4 linked regions of the Homo sapiens genome follow. The protein of the gene in region 1 interacts with the protein of each later gene in a pairwise test. Each region holds a gene or a part of one and is shown in the gene's direction. Other genes may lie near its edges.

Region 1 (3,012 bases):
TCCTGTGGGGGGAAGTCCATGCCTCCCTGGCCTGAAGAAGAGACTCTTTGCATATGACTCACATGATGCATACCTGGTGGGAGGAAAAGAGTTGGGAACTTCAGATGGACCTAGTACCCACTGAGATTTCCACGCCGAAGGACAGCGATGGGAAAAATGCCCTTAAATCATAGGAAAGTATTTTTTTAAGCTACCAATTGTGCCGAGAAAAGCATTTTAGCAATTTATACAATATCATCCAGTACCTTAAGCCCTGATTGTGTATATTCATATATTTTGGATACGCACCCCCCAACTCCCAATACTGGCTCTGTCTGAGTAAGAAACAGAATCCTCTGGAACTTGAGGAAGTGAACATTTCGGTGACTTCCGCATCAGGAAGGCTAGAGTTACCCAGAGCATCAGGCCGCCACAAGTGCCTGCTTTTAGGAGACCGAAGTCCGCAGAACCTGCCTGTGTCCCAGCTTGGAGGCCTGGTCCTGGAACTGAGCCGGGGCCCTCACTGGCCTCCTCCAGGGATGATCAACAGGGCAGTGTGGTCTCCGAATGTCTGGAAGCTGATGGAGCTCAGAATTCCACTGTCAAGAAAGAGCAGTAGAGGGGTGTGGCTGGGCCTGTCACCCTGGGGCCCTCCAGGTAGGCCCGTTTTCACGTGGAGCATGGGAGCCACGACCCTTCTTAAGACATGTATCACTGTAGAGGGAAGGAACAGAGGCCCTGGGCCCTTCCTATCAGAAGGACATGGTGAAGGCTGGGAACGTGAGGAGAGGCAATGGCCACGGCCCATTTTGGCTGTAGCACATGGCACGTTGGCTGTGTGGCCTTGGCCCACCTGTGAGTTTAAAGCAAGGCTTTAAATGACTTTGGAGAGGGTCACAAATCCTAAAAGAAGCATTGAAGTGAGGTGTCATGGATTAATTGACCCCTGTCTATGGAATTACATGTAAAACATTATCTTGTCACTGTAGTTTGGTTTTATTTGAAAACCTGACAAAAAAAAAGTTCCAGGTGTGGAATATGGGGGTTATCTGTACATCCTGGGGCATTAAAAAAAAAATCAATGGTGGGGAACTATAAAGAAGTAACAAAAGAAGTGACATCTTCAGCAAATAAACTAGGAAATTTTTTTTTCTTCCAGTTTAGAATCAGCCTTGAAACATTGATGGAATAACTCTGTGGCATTATTGCATTATATACCATTTATCTGTATTAACTTTGGAATGTACTCTGTTCAATGTTTAATGCTGTGGTTGATATTTCGAAAGCTGCTTTAAAAAAATACATGCATCTCAGCGTTTTTTTGTTTTTAATTGTATTTAGTTATGGCCTATACACTATTTGTGAGCAAAGGTGATCGTTTTCTGTTTGAGATTTTTATCTCTTGATTCTTCAAAAGCATTCTGAGAAGGTGAGATAAGCCCTGAGTCTCAGCTACCTAAGAAAAACCTGGATGTCACTGGCCACTGAGGAGCTTTGTTTCAACCAAGTCATGTGCATTTCCACGTCAACAGAATTGTTTATTGTGACAGTTATATCTGTTGTCCCTTTGACCTTGTTTCTTGAAGGTTTCCTCGTCCCTGGGCAATTCCGCATTTAATTCATGGTATTCAGGATTACATGCATGTTTGGTTAAACCCATGAGATTCATTCAGTTAAAAATCCAGATGGCAAATGACCAGCAGATTCAAATCTATGGTGGTTTGACCTTTAGAGAGTTGCTTTACGTGGCCTGTTTCAACACAGACCCACCCAGAGCCCTCCTGCCCTCCTTCCGCGGGGGCTTTCTCATGGCTGTCCTTCAGGGTCTTCCTGAAATGCAGTGGTGCTTACGCTCCACCAAGAAAGCAGGAAACCTGTGGTATGAAGCCAGACCTCCCCGGCGGGCCTCAGGGAACAGAATGATCAGACCTTTGAATGATTCTAATTTTTAAGCAAAATATTATTTTATGAAAGGTTTACATTGTCAAAGTGATGAATATGGAATATCCAATCCTGTGCTGCTATCCTGCCAAAATCATTTTAATGGAGTCAGTTTGCAGTATGCTCCACGTGGTAAGATCCTCCAAGCTGCTTTAGAAGTAACAATGAAGAACGTGGACGTTTTTAATATAAAGCCTGTTTTGTCTTTTGTTGTTGTTCAAACGGGATTCACAGAGTATTTGAAAAATGTATATATATTAAGAGGTCACGGGGGCTAATTGCTGGCTGGCTGCCTTTTGCTGTGGGGTTTTGTTACCTGGTTTTAATAACAGTAAATGTGCCCAGCCTCTTGGCCCCAGAACTGTACAGTATTGTGGCTGCACTTGCTCTAAGAGTAGTTGATGTTGCATTTTCCTTATTGTTAAAAACATGTTAGAAGCAATGAATGTATATAAAAGCCTCAACTAGTCATTTTTTTCTCCTCTTCTTTTTTTTCATTATATCTAATTATTTTGCAGTTGGGCAACAGAGAACCATCCCTATTTTGTATTGAAGAGGGATTCACATCTGCATCTTAACTGCTCTTTATGAATGAAAAAACAGTCCTCTGTATGTACTCCTCTTTACACTGGCCAGGGTCAGAGTTAAATAGAGTATATGCACTTTCCAAATTGGGGACAAGGGCTCTAAAAAAAGCCCCAAAAGGAGAAGAACATCTGAGAACCTCCTCGGCCCTCCCAGTCCCTCGCTGCACAAATACTCCGCAAGAGAGGCCAGAATGACAGCTGACAGGGTCTATGGCCATCGGGTCGTCTCCGAAGATTTGGCAGGGGCAGAAAACTCTGGCAGGCTTAAGATTTGGAATAAAGTCACAGAATTAAGGAAGCACCTCAATTTAGTTCAAACAAGACGCCAACATTCTCTCCACAGCTCACTTACCTCTCTGTGTTCAGATGTGGCCTTCCATTTATATGTGATCTTTGTTTTATTAGTAAATGCTTATCATCTAAAGATGTAGCTCTGGCCCAGTGGGAAAAATTAGGAAGTGATTATAAATCGAGAGGAGTTATAATAATCAAGATTAAATGTAAA
Region 2 (3,500 bases), on another chromosome or scaffold:
GTGCTGGGATTACAGGCGTGAGCCACTGTGCCTGGCCAAATGCCCAGCTAAAATTTTTTTTTTTTAAGATGGAGCTTCACCCTTGTTGCCCGGGCTGGAGTGCATTGGCAAAATCTCGGCTCACTGCAACCTCCGCCTCCCAGGTTCAAGTGATTCTCCTGCCTCAGCCTCCCAAGTAGCTGGGATTACAGGCATGTGCCACCATGCCTGGCTAATTTTGTATTTTTCGTAGAGACAGAGTTTCTCCATGTTGGTCAGGCTGGTCTCATACTCCCGACCTCAGGTGATCCGCCCGCCTCAGCCTCCCAAAGTGCTGGGATTACAGGCATGAGCCCCCGCGCCCAGCCTCTTTTTAAAATATTGGAAAATTACTGATAAAACTAAAGATCCTTTTGACCCCTTATTTTCCCATCTTAGAATCCTTTCCTTTTTCCTTAGAATAATTTCAGTTATGACTTAGTTGTGCTTTTGTTCAGATTTTTTTAAATACTTTTTTTTAACTTTTTAGTAGCGATCAGGTCTCACTATGTTGCCCAGGCTGGTCTCCAACTGCTGAGCTCAAGTGAACCTCCTGCCTCAGCATCCCACAGTGCTGAGATTACAGGCGTGAGCCACTACACCCAGCCTCAGATTTTTCAAAATACTCTTTTTTGAGACAGAGTCTCGCTCTGTTGCCCAGGCTGGAGTGCAATGGTGCGATCTCAGCTCACTGCAACCTCCTCCTCCCAGGTTCAAGCGATTCTCCTGCCTCAGCCTCCCAAGTAGCTGGGATTACAGGCGCCCACCACCACACCCGGTTGATTTTTGTATTTTTAGTAGAAACAGGGTTTTACCATGTTGGCCAGGCTGGTCTGGAACTCCTGACCTTAAGTGATCTGCCCACCTCGGCCTCCCAAAGTGCTGGGATTACAGGCGTGAGCCACCACGCCCGGCTTAAAAATACTTCTAAACATACATGTGCCAGGCTGGGTGCGGTGGCTCATGCCTGTAATCCCAGTACCTTGGGAGGACCGAGGCAGGCGGATCTCATGAGGCCAGGAATTCAAGACCAGCCTAGCCAACATGACCAAAAATACAAAAATTAGCCTGGTGTAATGGCGCATGCCCATAATCCCAGCTACTCAGGAGGCTGAGACATGAGAATCACTTGAAGGACACGGAGGTTGCGGTAAGCTGAGATCATGACATTACACTCCAGCCTGGGTGACAGAGCAAGACTCTTGTCTCAAAAAAAAAAAAAAACAAGTGCCAATAGAAAATGCAAGTATTTTCTCACATCATTGATGTGCTCTCTGCATGGTTCTGCAGTTTACTATTTTAAATCAATTATGTACGTCTTAAATTTCTCCACCTTGACACATTTAGTGATCCAGCAAATGCATTTAAAATTGTGATACTTCATTGTATGAATATACCATATTTCATTTAGCCTTTTACCTAGTAGTAAATGTATATCATCAGGTTGGTGCACAAGTAATTGCAGTTTTTACCATTGAAAGTAATGGTAGGCTGGGTGCAGTGGCTCATGCCTCTAATCTTAGCACTTTGGGAGGCCCCGGTGGGCAGATTGCCTGAGCTCAGGAGTTCAATACCAGCCTGGGCAACATAGTGAAACCCTATCTCTACTAAAAATACAAAAAAAAAGTTATCCGGGTATGGTGGTGTGCACCGGTGAGCCAAGATCACGCCATTGCACTCCAGCCTGGGCGACAGAGTAAGACTCCGTCTCAAAAAAACAAAAGGAGAAAGTAATGGTAAACAACCTAATAGATTATTTCAGATTTTTTGCTTTTACCCACAGGACTATAATACATTTCTTGTCAGTTCTCCTAGGGTAGCTATATATTATTAGATGTTGACTATCAGGGCTTTTTTGGCCTCTAAACATGATATTTAGTCAAACAACTGTCTTAATTTTTTTTTTCTATTCTCCATAGGGATGCCATTGAAAAGTTATTTCCTGATGCCATTAGACTGAGATTTGAAGACATTCAGCAGAATAATGACATAGTCCAAAGTCTTGCAGCCTTTCAGAAATATGGGAATGATCAGATTCCTTTAGCTCCTAACACAGGCCGAGCGAATCAGCAGATGGGAGGGGGATTCTTTTCCGGTGTGCTCACAGCTTTAACTGGAGTGGCAGTAAGTTGATCACTGTGTTCCTCTGTGCCCCCCCACACCTCACCCCCCGACCCCTGATTTCCACTGAAGTCAGTTCTGTTGAAATCACTGAAATAATTGATGATGTGACTCCATGTAATTTACTACGTACATTGAAATCTGCTGGGTTCTATGATTTCCTCAGGAATGTTGCTTACTCAGGTAGATCAGATCATAGTACCTAGTAAATGGAGAAAGGTGGTAGAACTGGAATTCAAGACCATGTCTGCCTTGGTAATACAATCTTTTTTTGTTTTGTTTTGTTTTTGAGACGGACTCTTGCTCTGTCGCCCAGGCTGGAGTGCAGTGGTGCGATCTAGGTAAAAACTTTCTTTTAGGGTGGTGAAAATGAACTAAAACCAGCTGTGGTGATGATGACACATATTTGTGAACACATTAAAAACCGTGGATTGTGTGCACTTCAAATGTGTGAATTTTATGTGGATTACATCTCTTGCTCTTTTTTTTTTTTTTTTTTTTTTTGAGATGAAGTCTTGCCCTGTTGCCTAGGCTAGAGTGCGGTGGCATGATCTCGGCTCACTGCCACCTCCACCTCCCGAGTTCAAGTGATTCTTCTGCCTCAGCTTCCCAAGTAGCTGGGATTACAGGCATGCGCCACTACAAGAGGCTAATTTTTGTGTGATTAGTAGAGATGGGGTTTCACCATGTTGGCCAGGCTGGTCTGGAACTCCTGACCTCAAGTGATCCACCCGCCTCAGACTCCTCAAGTGCTGGGATTATAGGCGTGAGCCACCACGCCTGGACCTCCTTGGTAATACAGTCTTAAGAACCCACCAGTTTACTAACTTCCAATGTGGAGACTATTTTCTTTTAAAGTTCTGTGCATAAAAAATCTAAATGTTTTTCCAGTAGAAAAGGCACAAGTCAGTTATGTTGAGCAAGTTGATGGAGTCAAGGCACCACCTGCTCCCAGGTGCCTGAGATAAGTCCTTTTCTCGCCTCTGTGCCCTCACTGCCACGCAATCAGCAGAGAGAGGCACCCGAGGAGAGCTGTGGTCCCCAGTTCTCTGTGGCCGTGGCGTTGCCCTGCTTTTGTTGCCCTGCTTCTGTGTACGGGCTCCGCATCATTCCCTGTGAGCTCAGCCTCTTCCTTTCCCCACCTCCCACCCGCATATTTAGAAACTGGCATCTCTGCCTCTCCATGGTTTAAAGTCCCTGTCACTTTTCCCCAGGTGGTCCTGCTCGTCTATCACTGGAGCAGCAGGGAATCTGAACACGACCTCCTGGTCCACAAGGCTGTGGCCAAATGGACGGCGGAAGAAGTTGTCCTCTGGCTGGAGCAGCTGGGCCCTTGGGCATCTCTTTACAGGGAAAGGTTT
Region 3 (3,500 bases), on another chromosome or scaffold:
AAGCAATCCTTCTGCCTTGGCTTCCCAAAGTGCTGGGATTACAGAAGTGAGCCATGGTGCCAGGCCCACCCATTATTTTCGACTATTTTTTTCTCCTGTGATAGGTGATTTTTTCTTCCAAGAATTTTGATAGGTTTAAATTCTAATCTGCAGTACCTCTGAGTGTGATCTTATTTGGAAATAGGTTGTTTGCAGATGTAATCAAAGATAAAGTAAGGTCTTACTTGATTAAGGTAGGCCCTAATCCAGTATAACTCATGTCCTCATAAGAATGGAGAAGATGCACACCCATAGAGGAGAAAATGCCATGTGAAAATGGCAAAGGAAGGAATGCTAAGGTTGCCAGCAACCACTAGAAGCTGGAGAAGGTCATGGAATAGATTCTCCCTCAGAACTTCCAGAAAGAGCCAACCCTACCAATACCCAGATTTCAGATTTCTAGCCTCCAGAACTGAGAGAGAAAAACATTTCTGTGGTTTTAAGCCATCTAATTTGTGATACTTTGTTATGGCAGCTGTAGGAAAGTAATACGGTACCAGGAAATGGGGTGTTGCTCTAACCAATACCTAAAAGTGTGGAAGTGGCTTTGGAATTGTGTAGTGAGTAAAAGCTGGAAGAATTTTAAGGTGCATGATAGAAGCAGCCTACGTTGTCTTGAAGATACTGTTGGTAGAAATATGGACATTAAAGGCGACTCTGGGTAGGTCTCAGATGGAAATGAGGAACATGTTAATGGACACTAGAGGAAAAGCGTGCCTGGTTTGAAAGTGGCAGAGAATTTGGCTGAATTATGTTCTGTACAGTTCTAATATGAATATGTAAGGGGCCGTCGGCTCTTCTGTTTGGAGAATGACATGGAGTTATCATGACAATTCTTATTATTAGAAAGTTGATTCATTTTTTTATTTCATTTTTTCATTTTCATTCTGCAGAGCAGGTGAGGTCAAAAATGACCCTTGCCTATTGGAAAAGCTGCAAAACATTAAGCTACTCTTTCTAGTTGAAAATCTCAATTTGTTTTAAATGGATTTGTGTGTGTGTGTCATTGGACAAGATAATAGCTCGGCAGTAGTTTGATTATATAATAGGTCTTCAGCTTATTAATCTAAATGGATTCCTGTTAATCTCTGAACAATGCAACCAGTGACCGATGTCCAGGTATGAACTATTACAGTGAAAACCACCAGACTAATTTTGTAACAATATTTATATGAAAATGATGCCTTTATCTTTATAGTTTTCACCTTGTTTTCTGATCAGTATTTTATTTGCTCTGTTCTTTTTCTCCATATTGAGGCTTTGCATATTTTTATTTTGTCTCACATCTTTGCACAATGAACCTATAAAACCTCTAGTTTTTAAGATACATCTTTCAGTTACATCAAATGTCTTCTAAACTTTTTTATTATTATATTACTTCTTACTACTCTCTTGTGAATGAAGGCTAATGACAACTCTGTCTCTGCATTTGTGTAGGGGTAATGAGATCCTTGTTCAGTGGTTCTTCTAATTTGGGGACTGGTGAGTTATTCATATGCATAAGGATCAGCCTATTATAAACACTTGGCAGGACCATTAATTCGGTTTAGGTCTCCCACTTTCCATTTCAGTGCTTGTTTCACTGCATTAATCGTTCCTTAGGTGTTTTAGATCATAATCCTCTTTTAGATCAAGGTAATTATTTTGCCCAGATTTACATTTTTGCCATGTGTTACAGCTGTGTTCAGAGGTTTTATAGGTTTTATACTGACTGGAGAAGCCTCTCTGAACTCTGTTCACCCAATGGGCCAACAAAAGAATATTGAATTTTCCCAGACAAAACCCTGCTGGTGTTTTCAGCTCTAGTTCTGTCCCGCAAATTCTCATCAGTTACAAGGCTGTTTTTTTTTTTTTTGAGACGGAGTCTCGCTCTGTTGCCCGGGCTGGATTGCAATGGCGTGATCTTGACTCACTGCAAACTCCGCCTCCTGGATTCACGCCATTCTCCTGCCTCAGCCTCCTGAGTAGCTGGGACTACAGGTGCCCGCCACCATGCCCAGTTAATTTTTTGTATTTTTAGTAGAGATGGGGTTTCACCATGTTAGCCAGGATGGTCTCGATCTCCTCACCTTGTGATCTGCCCTCCTCGGCCTCCCAAAGTGTTGGGATTACAGGTGTGAGCCACCGTGCCTGGCCAAGGCTATTTTCTGTAGAATGTTCCTGGTATTTGTTATTTACATAGCAGATTCTATTATATCTCTTTAATCTGCCAGCATCTTTTGGTTCTGAGAAACTTGCAGGAATGCTCTAGTTTTCAGGCAGTCTTTGCAGTCCCTAGATCATAATGTAGAACGCCATCTTTTTGTTTTGACAGGGAGGCTTATGATGATATTTGTGGGCTGAACGTGATCTTGAAAGGCCAATTAGTCTATTTCATGAAAGTGTATGAAAGTTGATTCAGGTGAGGATTATTGACTAGTGTTAAATTTGTTAAGTGAATGGTTGGGGAACTAGAAATTTACAGTGGATCAAATAACACTGCACAAACAATTTCCTCGATGAAAGAGGGAAGACATATCTGTACAGTGGGTGAGTGGATCAGACTTCATTATCCAAACCCTGTGGTCCATCTTAGTTATTATATATAGTGCTTATGTTTGTTCAGCCATCTTATGTGCTGTAACAAAGGGTTCAAAGCAGCATCTGTATTTTAGCCAAAAATATTTAGCTTGACTCCATTGAGCACTTACATTTTTAAGATTAGTTTATAGATAATATTGGAGATAAAAAAAATCTGTAAATAATACCATGAGGAAGCAAACAGACCTAGCCTGGCCTTGTCAATAAGTCAGGGTCGTAAAAATAGGGACTGTGCTAGATTCAAAGAGACTTAAGGAATAAACAATTAGATACAATTCCTGGTCCTGGATTGGATACTGTCTTGGAAAAACCAGCTGTATAGGACATTTTTTGGGTTACGGAAATTTGGAACTAGCCTGGATGTTATATGAAATGAAATTTATTAAGTGGAGAGATGAAGAATATTTTTTAAAAATCTAGTGACCAAAAAGAAGTATATATAAATATATACATAGAAAAAGATCTGGAAGTATGTGTACTGAGGGGTTAGTGGTACTCTGTGGGTGAGGGAATTTGGGGTTTTTATATATTTTAGTTTTGCTTGTCTTTTCCTCCTAATTTTCTCCAGTGCATATGTCCTGCTTCTGTGTTAATAAAAGCTCATTATTTTTTTTAAGTCCACACTAACCCATCCTATACAGATGAGTTGTTTTAATAATTTTACTCATTTTTTTCTTGATAAGGATTTTGTAATGTTTGGGACACATCTTTGAACCATGTCTTTAGATTCTACATGCATCTCTGTTTTAAAAATTTAATATTCTATTATGAAAAAATTTAAATACATGCAAAAGTAGATAGAATAATAATACAGTGATTTTCCATGTACCCATCATCCAGCTTCAGCAATTACCAATTAAGTATAGTATATTTCATGTCTA
Region 4 (3,500 bases), on another chromosome or scaffold:
GCAAGATAGGAAAGTCTACTTTAATAACATACCCAACAGACATTTTCGAGACATTAAATGTAGATAAAATGGTAACTGTTCAAAGCTGTCTTAAAGCCCATAGAGTCTCATCTCCTTTCCTATTTAGGTTCATGTACTACTTAACATTTATGATTTCTTTATTTTCTTTCTCTCCCTGCTTTTGGTGGTTAGAGTGTAAATTGTTAGTTTCTGTTTATTTTTCTGAGCATTGTCAGCCTCAGAGTTAGAAAACCAAGATGGTCTCACTTCTGAAACTTCTCCCAGTTCCTTTGGTTCTATATCCCCAGCTGGATTCATGTGTTGATCCAGAAAAGGAGAGGGATATTGCCGTGTTTTGTTTTTGTTTTTGTTTTTGTTTTTGTTTTGGCAAAGGGCTTGGGACCCTGAGTAGTAAGTAGCAGACGGTCCCAGTGCTAATTAGATAAATCTAGCCTTACAGGCTAGACCAGATGGTGGGTTGGGAGTTGAGCAGTAGAAAGGCCTAATGGTGATAGCAGTGAGTATTTGGATATCATTATTTTATTAGTTAGCAAACAGAACCATCCTTGTGGTCCCTCTTCGGTTTTATGTGTAATGGTGCTGTAGGTGTCAGCCCCCGAGTTGGCACAATAGCCTAATCAATGTATTCTAATGCCTTTTTTGATATACACTGTCATCTCATTAGCAACACACAGGGAAAGGAGAACAAATAGAGTTTTACAAATCACTCTTAAGTATCAGATCACATAAGCCTGGGGGCCTCTGAAAGAGCAATTCCTTGTTTTGTTTTCCTTGAGGTAATTTCCTAGGGAAACTTGCCCTTGACTTTTTTTGGATTACTGCAGTAGATCACCTGGACTCTGGCGAGGGCAGCTGAGCTTGGCTTTTAAAAAATTACCACAATGCCTCTGACAGTGGACATCTCCTTCAAATAAGAGAAACAGTGAAAAGTTTTTTTGCTTGAGGTATATCTACATGAGACAAAGCCCTGATGAGCTTGGTCTGTTTGAATGTGTTGTGCTGTTCTGCCCGGGCCCATGATGTGGGCACTCTTGTTCTATGCTCACATCAAGGGTAAGCCACTTCTTCCTGGCAGGGAATCACACGGTGGGACTCAGAGGGATTCAAATGAAAACCGAAACAAGGCCTATAGGCACAGTGCCAGTTAACATCTCATTGGTGCTGTTGTGTGGAGTGGATGCTCCTCACCAACAGACATTCCTCCACCCTCAGATCTTGCCACCTTACCAGGCTGAGCCTGCTGCCTGCCTGACCCTGCAGTTTGTTCTCAGGAGCTGCAAAGTGCAGACTAGGGCTGTCATGGACATTGGCATAGAGCATAGTGGGAAATGAAAAGAGCCCTGGCCATCCAGCCGCAGCTGGGCTTTGTTCTGTTTCCTCTCTTGGTAGAGTTAGAGATTAGTATTAGCAAGGAGCTGTTCCAGAAAACTGGTCTCTAGATGTTCCAGTTCTCTTTCTCTTAAATGAGAAAGTAAGATACAAATTTATGAAATGACTTTCTTCTCCAAGGTCACATAACAGGTGTTGAATAGGATTCCTGCCCCAAGAAAGCTCTACCTGTATCATCTTTTTCTTGGAACCAGTGGGTTTGCATTTTCATTTATCTTGGTTTTGATCTCTGGGACAATAACAGCTGTTAAATGGCTCTCTAGGAATAATTTTTAATAACTTTTTCCTTATCTAATCTCTCAAGCGGTATTTCCTAAATGTGAACTAAGACTCAGCAGGTGGTTGTGGTGGTGTTGACTATCCTATAGTTTCCTGCTAAGGTGGGAGAAGAGACATACTTTTCTTGCCTCCTGTGTTTTGTTCATTTGACATTTTAGTTTGAATGAGAAGGTATTCTTTAGCATTTCTAGACAAGGTTCAGGCCCTTAGGAAGTCCCTAAAGTTTCTTGGCCCCAGAATTTTTACAGTATCAACTCCAAAGTTTCTTATCCTCTTTTCTTTCTTTGTCTGATGCAGCTTCCGTGAATGTGCTGGTGCAGAACTGCAAGATCTACAATGATGCCAGCTGTGACATTTCTGCAGATGGCCAGCTCCTGGCAGCTTTCATCCCCAGCAGCCAGAGGGGCTTTCCTGATGAAGGCATCCTGGCAGTGTACTCCCTGGCCCCCCATAACCTGGGCGAAATGCTCTACACCAAGCGATTTGGTAAGGGATAGGAAGCCCAACCTAATGACAGAGGGACGCTGGTGCCTTGGCATGGTCATTGCTAGGTGAGGCACAGCTTGGGTGGGAGTAATGGTCACATACTGCCCCTACCTTCACTGGGGCACAGGCCAGAGAAAGATTGCTTTGCAGGAGTGCTGGCTAGTAACATTGCAGAAGCATCTGAGCATTAGAGTCCTACCGCATGCCCCTGTTACGACGGTCAGGAATAAGGGAGGAGGTGGTTGTAGCACACACATGCACTGCAAGACAGTTTGGCATTGTGTATTTAAAACCTCCCAAAATGTGTCAGCTCTTTGGCAATCCAGCTTTTAAGGAAATAATCAGAAAACTATACAAAGATTTACATACAAGGGTGTTCACAGCAGTGTTACCATACAGAAAAATGCCAAATTGTTGCCTTGAGACTTTTTTGTTTGTTTGTTTGTTTGTTTTGCGGGAGGGTGGGGTGGGTGTTTTGTTGGTGTCACCTTGAGTTGAATTTAAGTGTTTTTTGTTTTTTTTTTAAGAGTTGACTAAACAAATGATGGTGCAGTGATAGAACTGCTCCATTGGCCCTTAAAATGCTCTTACAGAACAGTGTTCATAATGTATTAAATGAAAAAGGTGGGTTTCAAAATAGTAATTACAGGATGTTAACAATTTTTTAAAATGTTGATAACAACGGTTAGCATTTATTAAGTACTTTCTTTCTTTTTTTTTTTTTTTTTTTTTTGAGACGGAGTTTCACTCTTGTTGGCCAGGCTGGAATGTAATGGCGTGATCTCAGCTTACCGCAACCTCTACCTCCCGGGTTCAAGCGATTCTCCTGCCTCAGCCTCCCGAGTAGCTAGTATTACAGGCATGCGCAACCACGCCTGACTAACTTTGTATTTTTAGTAGAGATGGGGTTTCTCCATGTTGGTCAGGCTGGTCTCAAACTCCCTACCTCAGGTGATCCCCCGACCTCGGCCTCCCAAAGTGCTGGGATTACAGGCATGAGCCACCGCGTTCAGCCTTATTATGTGCTTTCTATATGTCAAACACTACACTCAGTATGTATATGCCTTCTCATCATACTCCTCACTACAGTCCTATGAGATAACACCAGGATGAGCAAGTGAATATGAAGATTAGAGAAAAAGACAAGAGTAAGAGTGAAAGTTGTTTCCTTGGAATGGCCAGAAGCCTAGGAAATATTTCTCTGTTTTGTTGGCCCTCAGGTCCCAATGCCATTTCGGTGAGCCTGTCCCCAATGGGCAGATATGTAATGGTGGGCTTGGCCTCACGAAGGATCCTGCTGCACCCCTCCACAGAGCACATGGTGG

What was found. Proteins that work in one complex are often made in the same cells at the same time.
Region 2: the proteins of BCL2 (region 1) and BFAR interact in a two-hybrid assay, tested with the Homo sapiens proteins (one study listed by BioGRID).
Region 3: the proteins of BCL2 (region 1) and AVEN interact in a two-hybrid assay, tested with the Homo sapiens proteins (one study listed by BioGRID).
Region 4: the proteins of BCL2 (region 1) and AMBRA1 interact in binary tests that used the Homo sapiens proteins (3 or more experiments, as listed by UniProt).

What each region holds. Positions count from the first base shown.
Region 1 is NC_000018.10:63,125,080-63,128,091, reverse strand, and holds part of BCL2 (apoptosis regulator Bcl-2), read left to right. Parts: 3' UTR 1-3,012. UniProt on the Homo sapiens protein: Suppresses apoptosis in a variety of cell systems including factor-dependent lymphohematopoietic and neural cells. Regulates cell death by controlling the mitochondrial membrane permeability. Appears to function in a feedback loop system with caspases.
Region 2 is NC_000016.10:14,646,451-14,649,950, forward strand, and holds part of BFAR (bifunctional apoptosis regulator), read left to right. Parts: intron 1-1,937; coding exon 1,938-2,142; intron 2,143-3,353; coding exon 3,354-3,500. UniProt on the Homo sapiens protein: Membrane-bound E3 ubiquitin ligase that plays a role in several processes including apoptosis regulation or reticulum endoplasmic stress. Has anti-apoptotic activity, both for apoptosis triggered via death-receptors and via mitochondrial factors.
Region 3 is NC_000015.10:34,004,705-34,008,204, reverse strand, and holds part of AVEN (cell death regulator Aven), read left to right. Parts: intron 1-3,500. UniProt on the Homo sapiens protein: Protects against apoptosis mediated by Apaf-1.
Region 4 is NC_000011.10:46,433,524-46,437,023, reverse strand, and holds part of AMBRA1 (activating molecule in BECN1-regulated autophagy protein 1), read left to right. Parts: intron 1-1,986; coding exon 1,987-2,175; intron 2,176-3,395; coding exon 3,396-3,500. UniProt on the Homo sapiens protein: Substrate-recognition component of a DCX (DDB1-CUL4-X-box) E3 ubiquitin-protein ligase complex involved in cell cycle control and autophagy.